Homo sapiens: one gene and its partners. The protein of the gene in region 6 interacts with the protein of the main gene of each other region in a biochemical or structural test. Each region holds a gene or a part of one and is shown on either strand. Other genes may lie near its edges.

What was found.
Region 1: the proteins of LASP1 (region 6) and COPS5 form a complex in vitro, tested with the Homo sapiens proteins (one study listed by BioGRID).
Region 2: of the proteins of LASP1 (region 6) and PPP3CA, one has a biochemical effect on the other in vitro, tested with the Homo sapiens proteins (one study listed by IntAct).
Region 3: the proteins of LASP1 (region 6) and EHMT2 form a complex in vitro, tested with the Homo sapiens proteins (one study listed by BioGRID).
Region 4: the proteins of LASP1 (region 6) and DNMT1 form a complex in vitro, tested with the Homo sapiens proteins (one study listed by BioGRID).
Region 5: the proteins of LASP1 (region 6) and TRIM15 form a complex in vitro, tested with the Homo sapiens proteins (one study listed by BioGRID).
Region 7: the proteins of LASP1 (region 6) and ZYX form a complex in vitro, tested with the Homo sapiens proteins (one study listed by BioGRID).

The regions. Positions count from the first base shown.
Region 1 is NC_000008.11:67,052,134-67,055,633, reverse strand, and holds part of COPS5 (COP9 signalosome complex subunit 5), read left to right. Parts: intron 1-3,500. UniProt on the Homo sapiens protein: Probable protease subunit of the COP9 signalosome complex (CSN), a complex involved in various cellular and developmental processes.
Region 2 is NC_000004.12:101,022,918-101,026,222, reverse strand, and holds the end of PPP3CA (protein phosphatase 3 catalytic subunit alpha), read left to right. Parts: intron 1-161; coding exon 162-358; 3' UTR 359-2,805; downstream 2,806-3,305. UniProt on the Homo sapiens protein: Calcium-dependent, calmodulin-stimulated protein phosphatase which plays an essential role in the transduction of intracellular Ca(2+)-mediated signals. Many of the substrates contain a PxIxIT motif and/or a LxVP motif.
Region 3 is NC_000006.12:31,891,199-31,894,698, reverse strand, and holds part of EHMT2 (histone-lysine N-methyltransferase EHMT2), read left to right. Parts: intron 1-1,036; exon of another isoform or gene 1,037-1,337; intron 1,338-1,788; coding exon 1,789-1,873; intron 1,874-1,964; coding exon 1,965-2,005; intron 2,006-2,136; coding exon 2,137-2,292; intron 2,293-3,500. UniProt on the Homo sapiens protein: Histone methyltransferase that specifically mono- and dimethylates 'Lys-9' of histone H3 (H3K9me1 and H3K9me2, respectively) in euchromatin.
Region 4 is NC_000019.10:10,139,454-10,142,953, reverse strand, and holds part of DNMT1 (DNA (cytosine-5)-methyltransferase 1), read left to right. Parts: intron 1-733; coding exon 734-926; intron 927-1,764; coding exon 1,765-1,849; intron 1,850-2,044; coding exon 2,045-2,173; intron 2,174-2,625; coding exon 2,626-2,908; intron 2,909-3,136; coding exon 3,137-3,278; intron 3,279-3,500. UniProt on the Homo sapiens protein: Methylates CpG residues. Preferentially methylates hemimethylated DNA. Associates with DNA replication sites in S phase maintaining the methylation pattern in the newly synthesized strand, that is essential for epigenetic inheritance.
Region 5 is NC_000006.12:30,162,413-30,166,345, forward strand, and holds the start of TRIM15 (E3 ubiquitin-protein ligase TRIM15), read left to right. Parts: upstream 1-1,133; 5' UTR 1,134-1,189; coding exon of another isoform or gene 1,190-1,191; 5' UTR 1,192-1,272; coding exon 1,273-1,653; intron 1,654-3,933.
Region 6 is NC_000017.11:38,908,058-38,911,557, forward strand, and holds part of LASP1 (LIM and SH3 domain protein 1), read left to right. Parts: intron 1-3,500. UniProt on the Homo sapiens protein: Plays an important role in the regulation of dynamic actin-based, cytoskeletal activities.
Region 7 is NC_000007.14:143,387,845-143,391,344, reverse strand, and holds the end of ZYX (zyxin), read right to left. Parts: intron 3,127-3,500; coding exon 3,006-3,126; intron 2,857-3,005; coding exon 2,687-2,856; intron 2,579-2,686; coding exon 2,400-2,578; intron 1,489-2,399; coding exon 1,368-1,488; intron 768-1,367; coding exon 663-767; 3' UTR 234-662; downstream 1-233. UniProt on the Homo sapiens protein: Adhesion plaque protein. Binds alpha-actinin and the CRP protein. Important for targeting TES and ENA/VASP family members to focal adhesions and for the formation of actin-rich structures.

The DNA of each region.
Region 1 (3,500 bases), on a different chromosome or scaffold from region 6:
GGCCTCCCAAAGTGCTGGGATTACAGGTGTGAGCCACTGTGCCCGGCCTACGTACCTTTTTTGATGGTGAATTTTATGATGTATGAATTATATCTTAAATTATTTTAATGTTAAAGAAGCCAATGGGGACAGTTTTCTCTACCTTCTAAATATATCTCACCACCTCTTTTACTATCCTTTTCACCCAAGCCACTGCCATCTGGAGCCCCAATCAAGCACTTGCCTTCCGGCGAGTCTTTCTACTTGTGCCCTTCACTTCTTAAAGCTCTGTTTTCAGCCAGACTGATTCTGTTAAGATGTAAGCCGGATAATCCTCTTCCTTTTCAGAATGACTTCCCATCTTACCAAGAACAAGATCCTTAGTCCTTATCACAGACTGCACACCTCTGTGTGGTCTGGCTCCTACAGCCTCTGTGAGCTCATGTCCTATCACTGAACTTCTGCTGGTCTGCAATCCAGCCATATTGACTTCCTTATGGTTTGTAAAATGTGCCAGCAGGCTCATGGCTCAGAGCACTGGCACTTGCTGTTCCCTCTGCCTAGAACGCTCTTATTTCCATGTGGCTCACTAACTGCTTTAAGCATTGAGTATCTGTTTACAGGGTCGTGCTAACAGAAAATGTTCATTAGTTCATTAGGCATGATCATGGTGTAGTATTTTACCTATGTAAAGTAACACCTCTGTTTCCTCTTTCCCCGCTTTTTCTTCTTAGCACTGTAACCATCTGATATGTTTTGACATCTTTTTTTTGACCCCTTTAGAATGTGAACACAAATTTACTGCTGTATCCTTGGATTTAAAACAGGGCATGCCACATAGAAGAGGGCACCAAAAAAAATTGCTGCTTAAATGAATAAATGATTATCTACTGCCCTCTTTTTCTGTACCACTTATGCCAACTTCAAAGAATACTTTGGCTACCCATGTGCTACTACTGCTCTAATTTTTCTATTTAGAAGTTCTTAGAAAATTCTAGAATTTCTAAAATTAAATTCTTAAATATATGTGGTTTTCAATAATCTCTGACATATTTCTGTAAATACAATTCTCTTTTCTTCCTTTTTTTTGGTTCCTGTTTTTTTATTTCAGATGGAGTCTCACTAGGTTGCCCAGGGACTACAGGCACACCACTGTGCCCAGCTATAGAAACAAATATATATTCAGATAGAAGTTTAGTGTTAATTATTTAATTTGCCCTATTAAAAAGAATTTAAATGATTCCTGTTTGAGAGAATTGCTCCTAAGCCTGGAAATACCTTTGCTGTGATACTTTAATCTTCAGAGGAACTCTCAATTTTTTTTATTTATATTGAGTTGTATCAAAGGTTTATACTTCAAAACAAAAAAAGATTGAGACAGTTTATGTTTTCCGTATTCAAACAGATCTACTTTCCCTGTTTGTCTATTCCGTTAGTTTATCCTTCTGTCTTCCTTAAATAACTTTTTTTTTTAAGATCGTGTTGCGTACCAATCCTTAAATAACTTTCTTTTGGCAAACACCTTACCTTGCCACTCTGAAATATGAGCCTACCAAAGAGGGATAGCTACTTTGCTAGCGGCCTACATTGCTAAAGACTAGAATTTTGAACCTGGAATTGCTAAAATGTTCTTTTTTTTTTTTTTTTTTTAAATGGAGTCTTGCTCTGTCACCCAGGCTGGAGTGCAGTGGTGTGATCTCGGCTCACTGCAAGCTCTGCCTCCCAGGTTCACGCCATTATCCTGCCTCACCCTCCCGAGTAGCTGGAACTACAGGCGCCCACCATCATGCTCGACTAATTTTTTGTATTTTTAGTAGAGATGGGGTTTCACCGTCTTAGCCAGGATGGTCTCAATCTCATGACCTCGTGATCTGCCCGCCTCAGCCTCCCAAAGTGCTGGGATTACAGGCGTGAGCCACCGTGCCCGGCCCAAAAATGTTCTTTGTGTGTGTGTGTGATGGAGTCTCACTCTGTCACCCAGGCTGGAGTACAGTGGTGCCATCTCGGCTCACTGCAACCTCCGCCTCCCAGGTTCAAGCGATTCTCCTGCCTCAGCCTCCCGAGTAGCTGGGATTACAAGCACACACCACCACACCCAGCTAATTTTTGTATTTTTAGTAGAGACAGGGTTTCACCATGTTGGCCATGCTGGTCTCGAACTCCTGACCTCAGGTGATCCACCTGCCTCAGCCTCCCAAAGTGCTGGGATTATAGGCGTGAGCCAACACGCCCAGCATGATGTGTTTAATTTATTATGTTTTATTTCCTCACGCTAAACTTTAATCCGTAAGCATTTTTGCACTTTGGGAGTCTGAGGCGGTGGATCACTTGAGGTCAGGAGTTCGAGACCAGCCTGGACAACATGGTGAAACCCTGTCTCTGCTAAAAATACAAAAAATTAGCTGGGCATGGTGGTGGGCGCCTGTAATCCCAGCTACTCGGGAGGCTATGGCAGAACGATCACTTGAACCTGGGAGGCAAACGTTGCAGTGAGCCCAGATAGCACAACTGCACTCCAGCCTAAGTGACAGAGTGAGATTGCGGCTCAGAAAAAGCATTCTGTTTTTAAAAGGGTGCCTATGTGTCTTTATCTTTCGCACCACTAACCTCTGAGTCTGAACCTCTGTCTCTTCTCATCTTCCCTGCTGCAGTGGCTTCCTTTGTGGAATCCCTGCCTCCAGTTTCTCTCCTGTAATATCTCCTAATGGTACTATAAAACACCCCTTTGACTGTATTATTACTCTACTCAAGTACCTTCCATTCTACTCAAGCACCTTCCAAGAGTCCCGGGTATCTACAGGATAAAGTTTAAATTTCTTTTTTTTTTTTTTTTTAAGACAGAGTCTTGCTCTTGTTGCCCAGGCTGGAGTGCAGTGGCGCGATCTCGGCTCACTTCAACCTCTGCCTCCCGGGTTCAAGCGATTCTTCTGCCTCCGTCTCCCAAAGTTTGGCCGAGCACTGTGGCTCCCAGCACTTTGGGACGCCAAGGCGGGCAGATCACCTGAGGTTGGGAGTTCAAGACCAGCCTGACCAACATTGTGAAACCCCATCTCTACCAAAAATACAAAAATTAGCTGGGCATGGTGGAGGGAGCCTGTAGTCCCAGCTACTCGGGAGGCTGAGGCAGGAGAATCGCTTGAACCCGGGAAGCAGAGGTTGTGGTGAGCTGAGATTGTGCCATTGCACTCCAGCCTGGGTGACCAAGCAAGACTCTGTCTCAAAAAAAAAAAAAAAATTCTTAACCTTTTGTGTAACATCCTTCACCACCTAGACCCCAGCATAGCTTTCTAGCTTCCCCTCACATAATTCTTCTCTTGCTAAATTTTCCAGCTAAACCCATTGCCTTATTATCTCTTACATGTCTTTCCTTTTTGTGTGTTGATGCTCTCTGCCTAATGCCCTCCTTGCTCTCCACATATCCATACCATAGACTCAAAAATGTTTACCCTACACCTTGCCTTTTCCCTGAGGCTTCTCAGGCAGTTCTAGCTTGAGCTCCTCTATATGAAGAATACTTATTA
Region 2 (3,305 bases), on a different chromosome or scaffold from region 6:
GTAAGGAGTCTGTTGTGTGGTGTGCAGGTCCCGTCACTTTGTTCTTCACTGAAGGATTCCCTCTCACTGAGAAATCTCTAACATCACCTGCTGCAACAGCTGTGCCCTTTGTTTTCCTTTGGATAATCCTGGTTTTCTTTTTTTAATGATTTTCTGTTTAGCTATCAAAGGATTTTCACCACAACATAAGATCACTAGCTTCGAGGAAGCCAAGGGCTTAGACCGAATTAATGAGAGGATGCCGCCTCGCAGAGATGCCATGCCCTCTGACGCCAACCTTAACTCCATCAACAAGGCTCTCACCTCAGAGACTAACGGCACGGACAGCAATGGCAGTAATAGCAGCAATATTCAGTGACCACTTCCTGTTCACTTTTTTTTTTTTTTTTTTTTTTTTTTTTTGAGCTGCGGGGCATGATGGGGATTGCTGCATATCAGCAGTTGGATGTTCTTGCCTCTGACAGTAGCTTATTTGCTCTGGGGGCCAGGAATTGGATTCAGTTTACACTATCATTAAAAAAGAGGGAGAGAGATAATAAACTATATTTTGGTGGGGATGGTGATTAAACACCTCTTTTGGGTATGCCTTTTAAAAATGCTTATAGAGAAAAAAAATTTTAAAAAGAAAGCTAATGCTAGTATATACTGCAATGTTAGGGGAATGAACATGTTTTCCTACTGCATTGGGGACTTCTAGATAGGTTAATGAAAGGCCTTTTATTCTGTTACTGGACATGAAAACTTTGTCTAATTTCTTACTCTATTGTACGTTTACAGTCGCAGCACTAAAAATGGATGACATCAAACATTTTTAACAAAATGATGTACAAACTAAGGACTATTTATTGATAATGTTTTGCTACTCTTGTCAGACAATGGCTATAAACTGAATTAGGCAGTCTTAAAAAAAAAAAAAAACAGAAAAAGAAAAAAAAGAACGTTGCAAATTTGTTAAAATGCCAAAAAGGACAGTTTAATTTTGTACAGATTATGCTTACCTCAGGTTTCTTTAGTGTGCTTGAATGCCCTTCTTTCCATATAACACTTATCTTCTTCTTAATTCGGCAATGGAATATCTTTTAAGTTTTAAAAAAACTGGAATAATTATATCTATCTTTTTTGCCGTTTATATTTAGGGGTTTTTGTTGATAAAATCAAGTCTTGGTTGTGGCTTGCTGAATTAAATATTTATGAGTGGTGCATTTTTAAGTATAGTGAACAAGACACCATATTAAGTACAGTGATAAAGCATCTATATTCTGTAAAAAAAAAAAAAATCTGCCTATGCATGTTTTTTAAGAAAAAAAAAATGGCTGTATCGGCCTGTATGGGACTGTAATGCGCTTAGTGGTCTGACATATACTGGAAATGTATGTATACTGGCGTACTTTATATTCTCTAAAATGCTTAATGCCTTTGAAATTTTGTAATCAAAAAAAAGCTTTGAAAAAATCTAAAGGGGAGAGTATTCTTTAAAGTTTTTAACATAAGCTTGTCAATGCACATGTAGATGGTTAGCATGTTTAGCAAACCTTGTGAAATTATAATAAGTTTGTAGTTACATGTGAAACTCTAAATGCATGGCAACTGTTAATGTCATAACAGTTTAGTTATTTTGTTCTGTTCTGTCATGTGCCACAAAATATGTACTTTTTTCACTTTTTTCCCTTTGTATATCAGTTACGGGTTACAACTGGTTCATTCTGAAAACAACAACAACAAAAGTCCATTCATATTTTTTAACAATTGTATAAGTGCCCAAGTAATTCACTACAGCCTAAAGCCTTGCCTTTGTAATTTGACTTCTGACATGTTGGCAATCAAAGCATGCACTTGTAACAATGAAAAAGAAAAAGCATTTTATATTACTACTCAATAAAATGTGCATGAACTTACAGAATTCTCATCCTTCCACTGAGTCCGCTGAAGGGATTTATGTGCACAACCACCATGTGTCTTCTAGGTGCTGGCCCACCACCACACATCACAGGCTGATTTCCACAGGCTTCTTCCTAGGGGCCTCGTGATCTGAGGGGTGGTGCCTACTTCCACTGTAAGAAAGAATCTTGGTGGATTTGTGTCTCAAATCAGATAAGAGAAGCCTGTTTAAAGAGCAGATGCCATCTTCTGGCTTCCTCAAGGAGCCAGTTAAAAAACCAGAGCATTCCTTTTTATTGAAAAATAAAATTAATTTGTTATCAGGTTGTTTCAGTTGTATTGGATGCCCTATCTATCTGCTAAAGCAAAAAGTACTAGGCTACTAAGTGCATTTTCATCACAGAAAAGAGTTGCATTTGTATTAACAAGAAATTTGTATACCCACGCTTCAGCTACTATCTAATCATCACCCGAAGATTTAAGATACACCAAATTTCAGTTTGTTTGTAACATTGTTCATCTTTAGTGCACTTTGTTTTATATAATAAAGTATGCCTGTTATATTAAATAATAAGAATATGGCAATTAGCGATATAGCATACCCAAACAAAGATGTTCTCGATACAGTCTGGCAAAGACTATCCCAAGGTTATTTTAATGAATTCAGACATTTTTTCCTGTGGATATTTCTCCATCCTAAAAAAAGTGGCAACCAAGGAAAATATTTAGATGCAACTTACTAGAGTGATGATGTGAAAGAAATGGTGATTCTGGTATCATGGTGTTTATTTTCTTTCTTATAACTGCAGAGAAAATATCCTGACTAAAAAAAATTCATTTTTTTGGATTCCTTTCTTTTACAAATTGTGCTGAGGCAACTATGGCATAGAAATAAACATTTGACATTAAAATAAGCAGTTGATGTGAGTATTGCTTGGTCTTTCTGATGAGTGGTTAGGAAAGTAATACTGTGTATTTTTCCATAATAGTTTGGTCTCTCAAAAAAAGTTGATAGAGAACTAGTTATTTCTTCAAAAGGGATAACCTTTCTAGACCATCAGTTATTAGGTTTCTCTCCTTCACTTTTGGAGAAACTATAGAAATCTTTAGTTGCTCATGCCAGTGTACCTCTGGTTACACACACAGACACAGACATACACACAGAAACAACCTCCTGTCCCCCGACCTCCTGCACCCAGTCCCCACGGTGACTTCACTCTCATGGGATTCAAACTCAGTGCTGAATTTTCAACTGTTTTCAAGAACGAAGAGCTAGATTTGACGGACCCTGCATCAGCTGTTTTTCCTGTCTAAAATATCCTCTACTTCTGTTCTCCGTAAATGGTATTTGAGAAAAAGAAAAATCTTCAGAAACCAAACTTGTGTGATGAGATGAACGAACTGGAGGGGAAGAGAAACATCTCTGC
Region 3 (3,500 bases), on a different chromosome or scaffold from region 6:
CAGAGCGAGACTCAAAAAAAATAGCACAATTCTAACAATATGCCACCATCACTGCTGATGAACTGGATAAGAGGGGACTAGTGTCACGTAAAATTTACCATCTAAAAAACAATTTTAGGCCAGGCGCAGTGGCTCACGCCTGTAATCTCAGCACTTTGGAGGCCGAGGCGGGAGGATCACCTGAGGTCAGGAGTTTGAGACCAGCCTGGCCAACATAGTGAAACCCTGTCTCTACTAAAAATACAAAAATTAGGCCAGGCGGGGTGCCTCACGCATGTAATCCCAGCACTTTGGGAGGCCAAGGCAGGTGGATCACCTGAGGTCAGGAGTTCGAGACCAGCCGGACGAACATGGTGAAACCCCATCTCTATTAAAAATACAAAATTAGCCGGGCATGGTGGTACATGCCTGTAACAGTCCGCTACTTGGGAGGCTGAGGCAGGAGAATCGCTTGAATCCAGGAGGCAGAGGTTGTAGTTAGCCGAGATCCTGCCATTGCACTCCAGCCTGGACAACAAGAGCAAAACTCTGTCTCAAAAAAAAAAACAAAACAAAAATTAGCCGGGCGTGGTGGCATGTGCCTGTAGTTCCAGCTACTCAGGAGGCAGAGGTGAGAGAAACGCTTGAACCTGGGAGGTAGAGGCTGCAGTGAACTGAGATCGCGCCACTGCACTCCAGCTTGGGCAACAGAGTGAGACTCCATCTAAAAATTTAAAAATAAAATAAAAAACATTTTTAAGTATATAATTTAATGGTATTAAATACTTTCATCATGTGCAATCATCAGTCACCATAACTCATCTTGTAAAACTGAAACTCTGTACCCATTAAAACATAACTCTCCATTCCCTCCACCCCCTAGCCCCTGGCAAGGACCACTGTCCTTTCTTTCTCTATAAATTTGAGTAAGTACTTTATCTAAGTGTAATCATACAGTATTTATCCTTTTGTGACTGGCTTATTTCACTTAGCATAATGTCCTCAAGGTTCATCTATGTTGTACCATGTCAGAATTTCTTTCCTTTCACCTGGGCAGCATACCAAGACCCCATCTCTAAAAGAAGTTTAAAAGAATGTTTCAAAGGCCAGGCCCAGTGACTCACGCCTGTAATCCCGTACTTTCTGGGGAGGATCACTTGACACCAGGAGTTCAAGACCAGCCTGGGCAACATGGCAAGACCTCTTCTCTACCAAAAAAAAAAATTAAGAAGACATTAGTTAGGCATTGTGACATGTGCCTGTAATCCCAGCTTCCCAGGAAGCTGAGGCAGGAGAATGGCTTGAGTCCAGTTCGAGGCTGAAGTGAGCCATAGTCATGCCACTGCACTCCATCCTGGGTAACAGAATGAGACCTTATCTCTTAAAAAAAGTATATCTTTCCTTTTTATGGCTGAATGTTATTCCATTGTGTATAAATGCCACATTTTGCTTATCCATTCATCTGTCAGTGGCACTTGAGTTGCTTCCGCACCTCAGCTGTTGTAAACAGTCCTGCTGTGTATATGGCCACATATAAAAGGTCTTTTAACTTTATTAAGCTTTGTTTTCTCATCTGTAAAATGGAAAAGGGCCTGCTCTGCATGGTTGCAGAGATGAGTGAGTGTTAGTGTGCTTGACACTCTTCCTCTGAGGAAATAGCACCCGTGGTTGCCAGTTTGTGGCTACTGGAGCCTCACATGGCATTTGGAGGTGTGGCTCACTACCCCACCCCCGCCTGGGGCTCCAGGCTAACCCAGGCAAAACTGTAGGTGCTCTCTGACCCTCAGTGTGCTCCCTCTCGGCCCACAGCCCCCGGTCCCTGAGAAGCGGCCCCCTGAAATACAGCATTTCCGCATGAGTGATGATGTCCACTCACTGGGAAAGGTGACCTCAGGTCAGTCCCATCCCCCACCCCCGGTGGCTTGATGTGGTCTGTTCTGAAGGTTTCGGTGATAGGCCCCACACCATTCTCTCTCTTCTTCCAGATCTGGCCAAAAGGAGGAAGCTGAACTCAGGAGGTGGCCTGGTAAGCAGCAGAGGCAGAGCCTCTACCCCTCGGGGGCTGCTCTGAGGGAGGGTCAGAGGTGGGGCTGCATCCCATCCTCAGTAGAAATGCGCAGGGTGTCAGTGGCCTCAATTTTTCTGATCTTTTTCTAGTCAGAGGAGTTAGGTTCTGCCCGGCGTTCAGGAGAAGTGACCCTGACGAAAGGGGACCCCGGGTCCCTGGAGGAGTGGGAGACGGTGGTGGGTGATGACTTCAGTCTCTACTATGATTCCTACTCTGTGGATGAGCGCGTGGACTCCGACAGCAAGGTGAGACAGAGCTGGTCTGCCCTCCCCGCCGGTGCTCCCCCAGGGCTGGGGCTCACTGTCCAGTCCTCCTTGTTCCCTGTTTTTCTGCTTTCTGTCCTTTTTATCTTCTGAATATCCACTAAGTCATTGCCCCATGCTGTCTATAACTCCTTTTTTTTGTGGGGGGAGACGGAATCTCATTCTGTCGCCCAGGCTGGAGCGCAATATCACGATCTGGGCTCACTGCAACCTCTGTCTCCAGGGTTAAAGCAATTCTCCTGCCTCAGCCTCCCGAGTAGCTGGGATTACAGGCACCTGCCACCACGCCCGGCTAATTTTTGTATTTTTAGTAGAGACGGGGTTTCCCTGTGTTGGCCAGGCTGGTCTCTAACTCCTGACCTTAGTTGATCCACCCACCTTGGCCTCCCAAAGTGCTGGGATTACAGCTGTGAGCCACCGCGCCCAGCTGTAACTCATTTTCAATGTGTATTCTGCCCGTTTCATCCACAAAGGTGGCCACCACCCTGCACATGGGATTTAGTATTCTTTTTTTTTTAATCAGCTAATGAAATGACCATTTAACAGACATGTACTGTTTAAAAAAAGAAAACAAAAAAAGAAATGACCAGAAAGCACTTTTTTAAAACATACGTTATGCTGTTTATATAAAATTCAAAAGCATTGCATTGTCATTTATTTGCTTATTTCGTTGCTCTTTGTCTGGTTTTATCTTATATGTTTGCCTACACAGTAGAATGTTTAGTCTCTCTGATTTTGCCTTTTATTTAACATTTTATCATGAAAACTTGCAAGCATAATCAAAAGAGTAGAATAGGGAGCCCCCATGTACCCAATACACAGCTCCAGCCATTATCAGTACACAGTCCATCTTGACCCATCTGTACATCTCCCAGCACACACACCTACTAGGTTATTTTAAAGCAAATCCCAGACCTCATATCATTTTACCTAAACATATATCCATATAGATTTGTAAATATAAGGCCTCTTTTTGTCGTTCAACATCATTACACTACTGTTTTCACACCTAAAAAAACTTACCGATTTCTTAATACCATCAAATATCCTGTCAGTCTTCACATTTCCTCAGCTCTCACAAATGGTTTTTGTCAAGATCCAAATGAGGCCCACACCTTGATTTGATTAACATTTGTCTTAGGTCAGCCAGGCACAGTGGCTCACGCCTGTAATCCCAATACTTTGGGAGG
Region 4 (3,500 bases), on a different chromosome or scaffold from region 6:
TTGTAATAACAGGAAATAAAACAAGGGCTGTGAGTGGTACAGGTGAGAGAAACACACTCGAGAGGCTGCTACCGGCAGGCGGACACAGCAGGGCAGGGCCAGGCGTGCAGAGCAAGCAGCCAAGCTGACCTAATGGTTGGGGGGTCTCTACCCTGTGGTTCCCTAATTGGGGGCGAATCTACCTTGCAGTTCCCTCATTTGGGGAGGGGTTATCTTTACCTGCGGTTCCCTAAGTAGGGGGGTCTTTACCCTATGACTCCCTAACTGGGGAGGTCTTTACCCTGCGGTTCCATAACTGGGGGGTCTTTACCCTGCGGTTCCCAACTGGGTCGGGGGTCATTACCTGGCGGTTCCCTAATTGTGGGGGAATCTACCTTGCAGTTCCCTAATGTGAGGAGGGGATATCTTTACCCTGTGATTCCCTTACTGGGAGGGGTCTTTACCCTGCGATTCCCTAACTTGGGGGATCTTTACCCTGTGGTTCCCTAACTAGGGGGGGTCTTTACCCTGCAGTTCCCTAAATGGGGGGGAGTCTACCTTGCAGTTCCCCAGTGTGGGGAGGAGATATCTTTACCCTGCAGTTCCCTAACTGAGGGGGTCTTTACCCTGCGGTTCTCGAACTAGGGGGTCTTTACCCTGCAGTTCCCTGAGCACCCCAGGAACATGGTACTGTTTAATTCAGCATAAGCTCACCACAAAGGAGAGCTCCTAACGAGGCCTCTCCCGCTCGCAGGCCTGAGAACACCCACAAGTCCACTCCAGCGAGCTACCACGCAGACATCAACCTGCTCTACTGGAGCGACGAGGAGGCCGTGGTGGACTTCAAGGCTGTGCAGGGCCGCTGCACCGTGGAGTATGGGGAGGACCTGCCCGAGTGCGTCCAGGTGTACTCCATGGGCGGCCCCAACCGCTTCTACTTCCTCGAGGTGGTGCCCCTGCTTGCTAGAGGGAAGGCTTCGGGGTCAAAGTTGGCCAGAAGGAGTCTGATGTCGGGTTATACACAAGGCGGCTTGGCTGCAGGGTTTCAGCTTTTGTAAGAAGTGGGTGGTTGGCTGACGTGAAGCTGTTCTGCAGGAGCTTTACGGGGGTCTGAGCAGGGTTCTCCAGAGCACAAGTTGTATGAGATTCAAGTGGTCCCGGAGTTTAACACTCCTGGTTTTTAAAAAGTACGTCATTAGAGAACCTAACGTTTTAGTGTCTTGGTGCAACTGAACGTTGAGGACCATGAGGCAGCTTCCACCAGCCTGACTGGTGTCTTAGTATGAGTTGGAGAAGGTGCCCCTGCTCCTGGGTCCCTTGGGCCAGGCGCCTACGTCCAGGCCCAGCCCACATGCCTGTGCGGGTGGCCCTCGTTATGGAGAGGGCCCACGAGTCAGCTGATCAAGCTCATGACTTGTAAATTGTTGGGGCTTGGCCTTTCCGTGTTGTTACCTTAAAACGATACATCCACGTTCTCCCAGGCATGGATGAGGTAGCCCAATTGGACAGCAGATTCTGCATAGCACTTTTTCCTGTTCTAGAAGGTACTCTCAAGTGCTTGTAATAGGCATTTCAGTGTCAGCCAGATCAAATGTTAGTATTAATAAAATGGATTGTTTTAAGTTTCTATTGTAGCAAAGTCAAACTACTCTTATTGGTGGCTAATTGGTCATGGCCCCACTGAGGGAGAAATTAAGTGACTATCAAATTGCCTTCTTACTAGTCTGCGTTAGAGAGGGGACAGTGCGTTTCTCTCCCAAACGATTGCAGTTCTCTCCTTTTCAGGCCTATAATGCAAAGAGCAAAAGCTTTGAAGATCCTCCCAACCATGCCCGTAGCCCTGGAAACAAAGGGAAGGGCAAGGGAAAAGGTACGTCATTGTATGAGTTTCTTTTCAAGTTATTCTTCTGTAACTTGGAGGCTGCCTGTGAATCCCTCAGTGTAAAACCACCTCTGGTGTTACTGACTCTGGGACAGCGAGGCCGCCTGAGTTAACAAGGCGCTTGAGAGCAAGGTGGACTTGGACTCTGAGGATCGGGTTTAGCCTCTGGCCTCTCTCCCCCAGGGAAGGGCAAGCCCAAGTCCCAAGCCTGTGAGCCGAGCGAGCCAGAGATAGAGATCAAGCTGCCCAAGCTGCGGACCCTGGATGTGTTTTCTGGCTGCGGGGGGTTGTCGGAGGGATTCCACCAAGCAGGTGAGCGCCCGTAGGCTCCATCTCTGAATACCTGGTGAGCCCAGACCGGGCAGGTGCTACCTGAAACGACTTCCAACCCCGGTCACCTTCCTGACTCAAGAATCTCCTTCCGAGGCCAGGCACGGTGGCGCACGCCTGTAATCCCAGCACTTTGGGAGGCCGAGGTGGGTGGATCATGAGGTCAGGAGTTTGAGACCATCCTGGCCAACATGGTGAAACCCCGTCTCTAATAAGAATACAAAAATTAGCTGGGCGTGGTGGTGTGTGCCTGTAGTCCCAGCTACTCAGGAGGCTGAGGTGGGAGAATCGCTTGAACCTGGGAGGCAGAGCTTGCAGTGAGCCAAGATCACACCACTGCACTCCAGCCTGGGTGACAGAGCGAGACTCCATCTCAAAAAAAAAAAAAAATCTTCTGGAGAGTTGAAAGCATGGCTTCGTGCTTGATCTGCCAGGCATCTCTGACACGCTGTGGGCCATCGAGATGTGGGACCCTGCGGCCCAGGCGTTCCGGCTGAACAACCCCGGCTCCACAGTGTTCACAGAGGACTGCAACATCCTGCTGAAGCTGGTCATGGCTGGGGAGACCACCAACTCCCGCGGCCAGCGGCTGCCCCAGAAGGGAGACGTGGAGATGCTGTGCGGCGGGCCGCCCTGCCAGGGCTTCAGCGGCATGAACCGCTTCAATTCGCGCACCTACTCCAAGTTCAAAAACTCTCTGGTGGTTTCCTTCCTCAGGTAAACGGGTAGAAGCCCCCCAGTGTTGCCAGACGGCCCGGGGCTGTGCCGCATGTCAGCAGTGGTCATTTTCGCCCTGCACTGAGGCCTCTGCCCCCCGGAAGCTCACAGCTCAGCTCTCACCAGGGAGAGACTTTGATAACATTCGTGAGGGGCTTCCGGCACAGTGGGTCGTTTCTTCCCTCTGTCTGTGGAGGTGACTCCTGCAGTCTCTCCTGCCCCCTACAGCTACTGCGACTACTACCGGCCCCGGTTCTTCCTCCTGGAGAATGTCAGGAACTTTGTCTCCTTCAAGCGCTCCATGGTCCTGAAGCTCACCCTCCGCTGCCTGGTCCGCATGGGCTATCAGTGCACCTTCGGCGTGCTGCAGGTGGGCCCTGGGGCTGGGGCGGGCAGACAGATGTGGCCAGCACGTGACCCGGCCAGCAGCCAGCCATCCCTTACTGAAGGCAGGGTTCAATGGCATAGGCCTGCCATCCAGGCAGCAGAGGCTGGCATGGTGCTCTGTCCCACTGGCGGAGTCAGGGGAGATGCGTGCTCAGCCGGCCCCCAGCAAGTCCACCGCTAGTGTCTCTTGAGCTGTGTTCTCGAA
Region 5 (3,933 bases), on a different chromosome or scaffold from region 6:
CTCCTGTATTGGACAAACTAGTTCCTGGGCTGCACTCGTGGCAGGAAGAGCAGAGATTGGATGGGAAGGGGAGGTAATAAAGTGATTAGAGTAAAAAGGGAGCAACCACAAGGGGCTAGGCTGATCACCCAGTGGGAGAATGGGGGAAGGCCTGGTTTTATCCACAGATGTGTGCATGGGTGAAGGACCGTGGCTGCAGATCTTGGTCTTGGCATGAGGTGTGGGAGGAGCGTAGGGCTTTAAGCCAGGAGACTGGGATCGTCCTTAACGTGATACTTTCTAGCTTTGTGACCTTTGGAAAGTCACTTTACATTTGGAAAGTCAGTTTACATTTCTTTCTCTGTAAAATGAAGGTAATAATGTTTGCCTAGAGGGTTATTAAAATTGAATGTAGTAATATAAAAATACTAAACCCTAGATAAATGTGGTTGAAACTGATTATCTGACTAATCGTTTTCTAATGTGTATCAACATAAATCATTTGCATTATGGTTTCTTGCCTTCTCCCCGCTACAGTAAAAATAAATAAATAAATAAATAAATAAATAAATAAATAAATAAATAAAATAGTCCAGTGTTACCCGAACCCCAAAGGGGACTGTTGTGCCAGGTGGTGGGGGATTTGGGACCGTAGGAGGGGCCACCATGGGCAGATGTGGTGAGGGAGGAAAGGAGAGCAGAAGAGGGGACCCGATGAGCAATCCTTACACCCTACCTGCAGTGTCGAAACAGCGTCCCGCCCACACACTTCCGGCAGAATCTCCCGAAGTCCACACCTCTCACTCCAGCCTGGACTTTGATGCTGTGGGCACGCCTCAGAGCCAGAAGTTTATGGCTCCCACCTGCTCAATCTGACAGGAAGCTTCTGCTCCCCAGTTCTCCCCAGCCACTGTGGTCTACAGATTCCAGGAAACCCATCCCCCTGTGACCTCATGGTGTGCTCTGTTCTCCACCCTAGGGACCAGAAGGAGCCAGGAGTAAAGAACTGGCTTACTTGGCCGCCACTGGGAAATTCTGGGTAATTCGAGACGCCCTGGAATTTGGACCCACTCCGCTGATAGGTGGTGGCCAGGGTTCTAGGGAACACAAGAGGCGGAGCCAGGTGGCTTCCCTGTGCTGGCATTCTTGCCTCTCTCTCTCTTTCTCTCTCTCTGTCTCTTAGCCTTGCAGCCGTTTCCCTCTGCGATTCATGTAAGTGTGACTCGATTTCAGGGAAAGGGAACTCGCGTGGGCTGAGGAGACCGGAGTGGACGGGCTGGGGAAGGCACCGTGATGCCCGCAACCCCGTCCCTGAAGGTGGTCCATGAGCTGCCTGCCTGTACCCTCTGTGCGGGGCCGCTGGAGGATGCGGTGACCATTCCCTGTGGACACACCTTCTGCCGGCTCTGCCTCCCCGCGCTCTCCCAGATGGGGGCCCAATCCTCGGGCAAGATCCTGCTCTGCCCGCTCTGCCAAGAGGAGGAGCAGGCAGAGACTCCCATGGCCCCTGTGCCCCTGGGCCCGCTGGGAGAAACTTACTGCGAGGAGCACGGCGAGAAGATCTACTTCTTCTGCGAGAACGATGCCGAGTTCCTCTGTGTGTTCTGCAGGGAGGGTCCCACGCACCAGGCGCACACCGTGGGGTTCCTGGACGAGGCCATTCAGCCCTACCGGGTAAGAAGTGTAGCTTTACCTAGGGCCTGTTTGGGGCAGGATGATGTCCTGTTATGAGGGGAGGAAATCGGGCGGGGATCTGGATGAAAGGCTTCCACATCAGGGAACCCTAAGGTTACAGGGACTTTCGAGGCATTCCCAGACTGAAGGCAGATAGGGCTCCACTTGGATGTGTGGTAGTTCCTGGTCTGGGGGGAACTTCAGCTCCAGCTCTCAGAGGACCCCACAGAGGTGGAGTGCAAAGAACTGTAGCCTTGGCTTCACTCACTATGGAAAGAAAGCTCCAATGCCGAGTGGGATCTTCTGCAGATTATGGGCAGGGTAAACTTGTTCTCCCAGGATCCAGACTGGAAATGGGGTTTATAGGGCCCTGACTGCCAGGGCGCAGAGGGGAGGGAGGAGCTGGGAAGGGGAACCTGCTAGCACTGCTCTTCTTCTTGAGAAAGGGAGGGTGGCAGTAGTCCAGAATTGTGAGAATTCCCCATCTGGCCTTGGGGCACTTTCCTGTCAGCCTCTCAGATCTCTCTCTTGTCATCCAGTCACCAGGTCTGGAAGTGGTTACCTTAGAAACATCTCCCAAATCTTTAATTCTGCCTTATCCTCACAGCCAGGTTCTCCCTATCTCTTGCGCAGACTTTGCAGTCTCCATGGCATTTCCTGTCTCCATTCTCACCCTTTCCAGTCACCTTCCAATCTGCTGGGAGACAGATCCTCCTAAAACACAAAGTCACTCATCTGCACAAAATCCTCCCATGTATACCTAGTGCCCAAAGAAAGTCCAAGGTCTTTAGCAAGACATTCAAGGCCCTTTGCAGTCGGGATCCTTCCTCCCTGTCCGGCCTCATCGCTCAGCCTCCCTCCTCAAGGCACCACGTGTCTGGCCAGACTGAGCTGCACTTGCTGTTTTTTCCTGAGTTGTCTTATTCATTCCTGCTTCCAATACTTTTTGCACATAGTCTCTTCCTCCTAGAATACTCTTCTCCCTTCCTCCCACCTCTCTCTCTGTTTTTAAGTATACAATTCAGGGGCACTAAGTCCTTTTCTTTTTTTTTTTATTATACATGTTCTGGGATACATATGCAGAACGTGCAGGTTTGTTACATAGGTATATACGTGCCATGGTGGTTTGCTGCACCCATCAATCCATCATCTACATTAGGTATTTCTCCTAATGCTATCCCTCCCCTAGTCCCCCAAGCCCTGACAGGCCCCGATGTGTGATGTTCCCCTCCCTGTGTCCATGTGTTCTCATTGTTCACCTCCCACTTATGAGTAAGAACATGTGGTGTTTGGTTTTCTGTTCCTGTGTTAGTTTGCTGAGAATGATGGTTTCCAGCTTCATCCATATCCCTGCAAAGGACATGAACACATCTTTTTTATGCCTGCATAGTATTCCATGGCATATATGTGCCATATTTTCTTTATCCAGTCTATCATTGATGGACATTTGGGTTGGTTCCAAGTCTTTGCTATTGTGAACAGTGCTGCAATAAACATATGTGTGCATGTGTCTTTACAGTAGGATAATTTATAATCCTCTGGGTATATACCCAGTAATGGGATTGCCAGGTCAAATGGTATTTCTCATTCTAGATTCTTGAGGAGTTGCCACACTGTCTTCCACAACGGTTGAACTAATTTACACTCCCACCAACATTGTAAAAGCATTCTTATTTCTCCACATCATCTCCAGCATCTGTTATTTCCTGACTTTTTAATGATCACCATTCTAACTGGTGTGAGATGGTATCTCATTGTGGTTTTGATTTGCATTTCTCTAATGACCAGTGATGATGAGCTTCTTTTCATAGGTTTGTTGGCCACATAAATGTCTTCTTTTGAGAAGTGTCTGTTCATATCCTTCACCTACTTTTTGATGGGGCTGTTTGTTTTTTTCTTGTAAATTTGTTTAAGTTCTTTGTAGATTTTGGATATTAGCCCTTTGTCAGATGGATAGATTGCAAAATGTTTCTCCCATTCTGTAGGTTGCCTGTTCACTCTGATGATAGTTTCTTTTGCTGTGCAGAAGCTCTTTCATTTAATTAGATACCATTTGTCAATTTAGGCTTTTGTTGCCATTGCTTTTGGTGTTCTAGTCATGAAGTCTTTGCCCATGCCTATGTCCTGAATGGTATTGCCTAGGTTTTCTTCTAGGGTTTTTATGGTTTTAGGTCTTACGTTTAAGTCTTTAATCCATCTTGAGTTAATTTTTATTTCAGGTGTAAGGAAGGGGTCCAGTTTCAGTTTTCTGCATATGGCTAGCCAGTTTTCCCAACACCA
Region 6 (3,500 bases):
TCTCCTCCCAGAGGAAAAGGCTCCCTGTCACCCCATCGCTAATGCAGATAGCGTCATGTCCAGGGAAGCTGTCACACATTCATCTGGGCCCCCAACATCAAGGACACCTGTCCCTGCAGGCCCCCTGCTGGCACCTTCGGGGCCCAGGGCAGGCCCCTGTCCATTCCGTGTCTGCACTTCCCTCCCTGGTCACAGGTTCTCAGGGGCAGGCTCTTTTCCTTAGCAGAAAGGAAACAAGGGAAGCTGACCTTTCCCACCTCAGAACAAAAGTTGGAAGGGCAGGTGCCTCGTGAGCCTGGAGGCCTCAGGAGGGGTGTCCCCTTCCCTTGTGCCCTCCCCGCCACCAACACCAGTGGACAGGGATCACTAAGAGAGTGGGGCTCGGGAGACTCACCTTCTGCGCTGGGTCTGTGAGAACATCACCTGGAGTGCCCCTCCCAGCGGATGCTGGGGTCGGTTGGATTTTCAGCCTGGCCAGGGTTGGCTGCCTCACCTCAGGAACAGGCTTAGCCTGTGCTGCCACGTGGGTGCCGGTCCTTGCTCTGGCCTGAAGGGAGGGGGCCGGGAAAGGAGGGACTGATCCTGACCCAAACCCCTAAGTAAACTGCCCTCTGCGTCCAGACTGGACTCCCCCCAGACTCTGTCCAGGCCCTTACCACTGCCCTCCCTGTGCCCCCAGCCCGGGCTGCAGGAACTATTGGCTGTTCAGCCAGCAGGAGCAGCAACCATGCAGGTGTTTCCAGCTGTTAACGTGTAAGCCCTGCCTGGCCACGTGCTTGCTCTTGCCTTTTGTGCACAGCCAGTGCCAAGGGGGAGAGGAGGCAGCAGAGACGTTGTGCGGAGGGGATGCCCAAAGGGGACTGCCCAGGCTGGGACAGCCCTGATGGGGCAGGGGCGTTCCAGGAAACAGCAGGTTTTGCCTCTCCTCCTCTTCCCACCCCACTACTCCCACCCCATTTTCCCGGATCAGGAAAAGGCAGGCCAGCATTCTAGGGAACAGGAAGTGAAGTTGGCTTCCAGCTAGGTGCCTGCCAGGGCCTGGAGGAAATTCCTGCAGGCCTGAGCCCGTCTGGGAAGGACCAGTTTCTCTCCTTGTCCTGGTGTCCTGCTTTCTGAGTTTCCCCTGAGGGTGGGGGAGAGCTGTCACTCTCTTCACTCTATGTCCCGCTTCCTCCCCCATCCTCATGGAGCACTCAAACCCTGAACCCTCACACCTTTCTATGGTTGTACCCGTCCCCACCAGTTTCCTCTCTGGAAAGTGAAGAGGAGGCTGGGCACGGTGGCTCACGGCTGTAATCCCAGCACTTTGGGAGGCCGAGGTGGGCAGATCACAAGGTCAAGAAGTTCAAGACCAGCCTGGCCAACATGGTAAAAGCCTGTCTCTACTAAAAATACAAAAATTAGCCGGGCGTGGTGGCAGTTGCCTATAATCCCAGCTACTCAGGAGGCTGAGGCAGGAGCATCACTTGAACCCGGGAGGCAGAGGGTGCAGTAAGCCGAGACTGTGTCACTGCACTCCAGCCTGGGCGACAGAGCGAGACTCCATCTCAAAAAAAAAAAAGAAAGAAAAGTGAAGAGGATAGAGCCCACTAGGGGTCATCAAGGTGTGGGACAGGCAGCATGTTCCTACAGGAAGAAAACTCTAACTCCTGGTTCTGGTTCTTTTTCATCTCATTCATTCATTCATTCATTCATTCATTCATTTGTTTTGAGATGGACTCACTCTGTCTCCCAGGCTGGAGTACAGTGGCTCGATCTCAGCTCACTGCAATCTCCGTCTCCTGGGTTCAAGTGATTCTCATGACTCGGCTTCCCAAGTAGCTGGGATTACAGGTGCCCACCACCATGCCTGATTAAGTTTTGTATTTTCAGTAGAGACAGGGTTTCACTGTGTTGGCCAGGCTAGTCTTGAACTCCTGACTTCAAGCAATCTGCCAACCTCGACCTCCCAAAGTGCTGGGATTAAAGGTGTGAGCCACCGCACCTGGCCATCTCATACTTTCACAATTCATTCTTTGGTGCAAGTTTTACAATATACATTCTATATTTGTCAAGTGATAACTTCCATGTAACTTATAAAATACACATAATTCAGGAAGATTGTGCTAAAATACATTTAACCAATAGGAGTATGCCGTCAGAATATTTTGGCAAACAAGGGTCACTAAGTTTTTTCTGTAAAGGGCCAGGTAGGAGGTATCTCAGGCTTTGTGGCCATATGGCCTCTGTGGCAGCAGCTCAGTTCTGCAGTTCTGCCATGAAAGCAGCCACAGATAAGAGGTAATTGAGTGGGTGTGGCTGTGTTCCAATAAAACTTTATTTCTGGAGGCTGAAATTTGAATTTCAGAGAAATTTCATGTGTCATGAAATATTATTCCTCTTTTGGTTCTTCTTCCCCCCCTCCACCGCCCCCTGCCAAGCATTAAAGAATGTGGAACCCGTTCTTAGCAGCCGGCTGTGGGCTGGATTTGGTCCATGGACCATAGATTCCCAGCTTCTGCTCTAGACCACCCGTTCTCAGACTTGAAGCCTGCTTCAGACTTACCTGGAGAGCTTTTTTCCAAAATGCATATTCCAGAACCCCAGCCCTGATTTTGTAGATTTTCTGGAAGGCCCCAGAACCCGCATTCTAACAAGGAGCCCAGTTGAGTCAGACACAGGTAGTCTGGAGTCCACTTTTTTTTAAACAGAGTCTCAGTCTGTTGCCCAGGATGCAGTGCAATGGCGTGATCTTGGCTCACTGCGACCTCCGCCTCCAAGGTTCAAGCAATTCTCGTGCCTCAGCCTTCCGAGTAGCTGGGATCACAGGTGCCTGCCATCATGCCCAGCTAATTTTTGTATTTTCAGTAGAGACGGCATTTCACCATGTTGGCCAGGCTGGTCTCAAACTCCTGACCTCAGGTGATCCACCAGCCTCAGCCTCCCAAAGTGCTGGGATTACAGGCGTGAGTCACCGCGCCCGGCCAGGAGACCACATGTTAAGAAGCAAAGCTCAAGGGTCTCCAGGATCCTGGTCTGTTCTCTTCAGCCAGTCCTGAGGCCTGGGGTGTGCAGTGCTGTGGGAGACCCCTGCATCAGAATAACTGGCTCCTTCACTACCTTCCAGGAGCTTCCATCCAGTGGGGGTGGGGGACACCACCCGCCAACAGCACAGCCCAGTCCCAGGTGCTATGGAAGCCCTGGGTTCAGCCTGGAGCCAGGGCCAGCGTCCCGAGGATGAGGTGCCGAGATGGACCTTGAAGGATGAGAGAAGCCTGGACTGCCCTTGAGTGGCGAGGGTGGGCTGCCTCCAGGTTGACCTTAATCCCTTCCCTCCCTACCACCATGTGTCCAGATGACCTTGGGCAGGTCCCTTAGCCTCTCTGGATATCGGGATATGACATTGACTACCTCAGAGACTTGTGGGGAGGATTCGGCGAGCTGATATGCATGAAGTGTATCAACTAGGGCTGCTGGCTGGTATCTCCTTCCCTTGTCTTCCCCCACCACCCCAGCCAGGG
Region 7 (3,500 bases), on a different chromosome or scaffold from region 6:
TGCTGCTTCTGCCCACTTTCAGGAGAACCCTGCTCTGCACCCCAGAAAACCTCTTTGTTTTAAAAGGGAGGTGGGGGTAGAAGTAAAAGGATGATCATGGGAGGGAGCTGAGGGGTTAATATATATACATACATACACATATATATATTTTTGTAAATAAACAGGAACTGATTTTCTGCCTCCATCCCACCCATGAGGGCTGCAGGCACTACAAAAGAGCTGACTACTGAGAATTCTGGAAAACAAGGTTTTTTTTTATTTGTAGCTATAGCTACAACTTGGCAGCATGGGGGAGGGTGGGAATGTCCTGGAGGGTCTCCCAGCCCTCCGCAAGCAGAGTACAAAGGCTGCTCGGGGGGCCGGCCGAGGGCGCGGGTGCAGCAGTGAAAGCAGCAGCACTAAACCTGGTGCCCCCCTCAGGTGGGGTGTCTGGAAGACGGTGGGCAATCCCTGCAGGATGGGCGAGGACCAGACCCCAGGGCGGGGATCCTGCATCCCTAGACCATGTTGGGTCCTGGGTCAGGGCACCTGGGATGCTAGGGAGGGGTTGGAAATGGGAGGGGCTAGACATCAAAACAATAACTGAGGTGGGGGCAGGTGGTCTCAGTGTGGGTGGTCCACAATGGGGCATGGACTGCGGTCTGAAGAGGGCCTGTCCTCACTCAGGTCTGGGCTCTAGCAGTGTGGCACTTCCGACAGAGCACGTGACCGTCCAGGGGGAAGCAGCCATTGTCATCTGCCTCAATCGACAGGGGCTTCCCGCAGTCCTGGGAAGAAGGAAGGGTGAGGGGCACTGGACCGGAAGGCCCCTGCTCTGCTCCACCCTACCCCACCCCATCCAGCTCCATCTTGGAATTAGAAAGATGCTTCATGGCTCAGAGCTGGTGTCATCGCTTTTTCCAGCCACACCCAACTCCCCATCCCTATCCTACTTCCAGTCACCCACTAGGACCTTCCTGCAAGAGGGCAAGCAGTGGGTAGAGCTGCTCCCAAGGTGCTTGCTCCCCTGCCCACCACCACCCTAATAAAATAGAGGTTGGCTCACCTCCATTCGAAGACCTCTTCTCTCAGCTCCTGTTTCCCCATCCCCTACCACGGTAAAACACCATGCCCTTCTTCTCTCCTATTGGCTTGTCCCATTTCTTGGCTTATCCATGACTCAAAGTGACCTCAGAAGCCCCACAGCCCCATTTCCTGCAGTGGCAGGAAGCATTCTGGCAGGACAGATGGGGTGCCACCATGAGCCACCCTCAAAATCACAGCCCTGTTTCCTGAATGCTGGTGCTTTCCACCTCCCAGTTAGTAAGCAGCATCTCCCGCCACCTCCTGGTCAGAACCTGCCCAAGGAGTCCAGAGGGATGGCTGACCTCACACTTGTAACACTTCATGTGGAAGTTCTTGTCCAGGGCGACCACTCGCACAGTCTCATCTCGGCCAGGCTCAGGCATGATGGGCTCAGAGCAGACGGAGCACCTCGGGGCGTACTGCCTGGAAGGGGCAGAAAGGGCCAGCCGAGTTAGCCAGGGCTTTCATCCCCGGTGTGCGCACGCATAAGCCAGGTTGGGCAGCAAGGAAGCAGACTTCTCTGCCCTGCATCTCCAGGTGAAGGAAGCTCACCAGAAGGGCCTAAGAGTGAGACACCATGACTGGCCCTCATCAAAGGGAATTTCCTGCCTCACCAGTCACTCTCCCAAAGCAAGGGAGCCTCCCACACACCTGCCACGGTGTTCTCTCCCACTCGACCCTTACTGTCCCATTCACACTGCAGCTCCTGCAGAAAGCCAGCCCTGAGGTACCCCTCCCATCCCATCCTGGGTCCCTGACCCTCACCTTCCCCCAATCCTCCCACCCCCATGCACGTTGCCTCTGCCCTGACTGTCTGGCACTGTGGAGGGATGTGAAGTTGTGGCCACCCCAGATGGAATCCTGAAAGTGTTTACCCAAACACTCTGTCAGAGGTGGGGGTCAGATTCTGCACTGTTCCCACAGCTGCACTGAGGTTCTGCGGGTCAGCCTGAAAAAGTAGCCACCTTCTAAACACTATTTCTGGGGAGAAACCAGAAATCCAAACAGCTGATCTCCAAAAGAACTTTTAGAACCCAGCCTGTGTGTGAGATGAAGTCACTCCAGCACACTTCACGAAATGCTGACATACACCCACAATAAGCTTCAGTGATCAAGGGCGAGGGAGGGACCAGACAGCAGCAGGACTCGATGCCCAGGCCTAAGGCCCCTGGACAGCTACATCCCGATGACTTGGTCCCTGCTGTTTACAGACAGGACATGGGACCAGAAAACACCACCAGGGGTTTGGGGCTGTCCTGAGGCTAGGGTAGCAAGCAGCCGGGCTACCAGACCAAGCACGCCGGGAACCCAGAAGGCAGGTGGCAGGTCCTCACTTGTGGTAGTCGGGGACACAGTGGGGCCGGTTGGCCTGGTCCACGATGAAGGAGGTGCCCTCCAGGGGGCGGGCGCAGACCACACAGGTGAAGCAGTGCGGGTGATAGGCCTTGCCCGTGGCCCTCAGCATGCGGTCAGTGATGGGCTCCCCGCAGGTGTTACACTTCTCCAGGGTGTCCTGAGGAGGCAGCAGGAGGAGGTTGGCAGGGAACCGGCACCCCACAGCAAGCTTCCAGGGCCCGACTGCCCAGCACAGCCCAGCACAGCCCAGCACAGCCCGACTCACAGTGTAACAGCCCTCGCAGTACGGCGCCCCCTCCAGACTGTAGAACTGCTGGCCCTGGAGCTGCTGCGCACACTGGTGGCAGGTGAAGCAGGCGATGTGGAACAGCTGCCCTAGAGCGCGGACGGCTGGCTGCGCCCGGGCCAGGGGTTGATGGCATCGGCCGCAGAGTTCTGGGAAGGCCAGAGAAGACAGCAGTAAATAGAAGGAAGTATGTAGAGCTGCGAGGGATCAGCCAGCTCAGATAGGGAGTGGAGCCACAGCCCTGGCCCCCACCGTGATGTGGGGGCAGGGTGGGGGTGTCCCGGTGGGGTGGGCTCACCGTTGACAGCCACATTCTGCCTCTGAGGATGCTCCATGTCCTGCATTAGCTGCTGGGTCAGCTGCTCCAGCTCCTCCACCTCCTTCAGAGTCAGGGGCCCTGGGGCCCCAGGGGAGCGCACCTGCAATCCCAACATTTTCCTCACACTCTAGAGGGCTGCTGCCTCCAAGAACCTTCCCAGGCCAGCCTACCCGGCTTCTTCCGATGAGGCTTAGCTCCCAGCTCGTGTCCCAGATGCTCAGGCTTGACCCTTAAAGCTTCTCCCTCGTCCCCCTACCCCCGCCATCCCCAGCACCACACAAATAACAGGGGAAGGGACCTAAGCCTGGATCTCGTACAGCAAGACATTTCCACCCACTCTGCCCAAACCCCCTGAGCAGTCACAGACAGGCCAGAATGACTGGGCGGACGGAGGCCACGCACACAGCAGCTCGGGTCACTGAAGCACCGGACACTCCAGGGCCACGCATCAACTCCACAGAGCATGCTCGGACA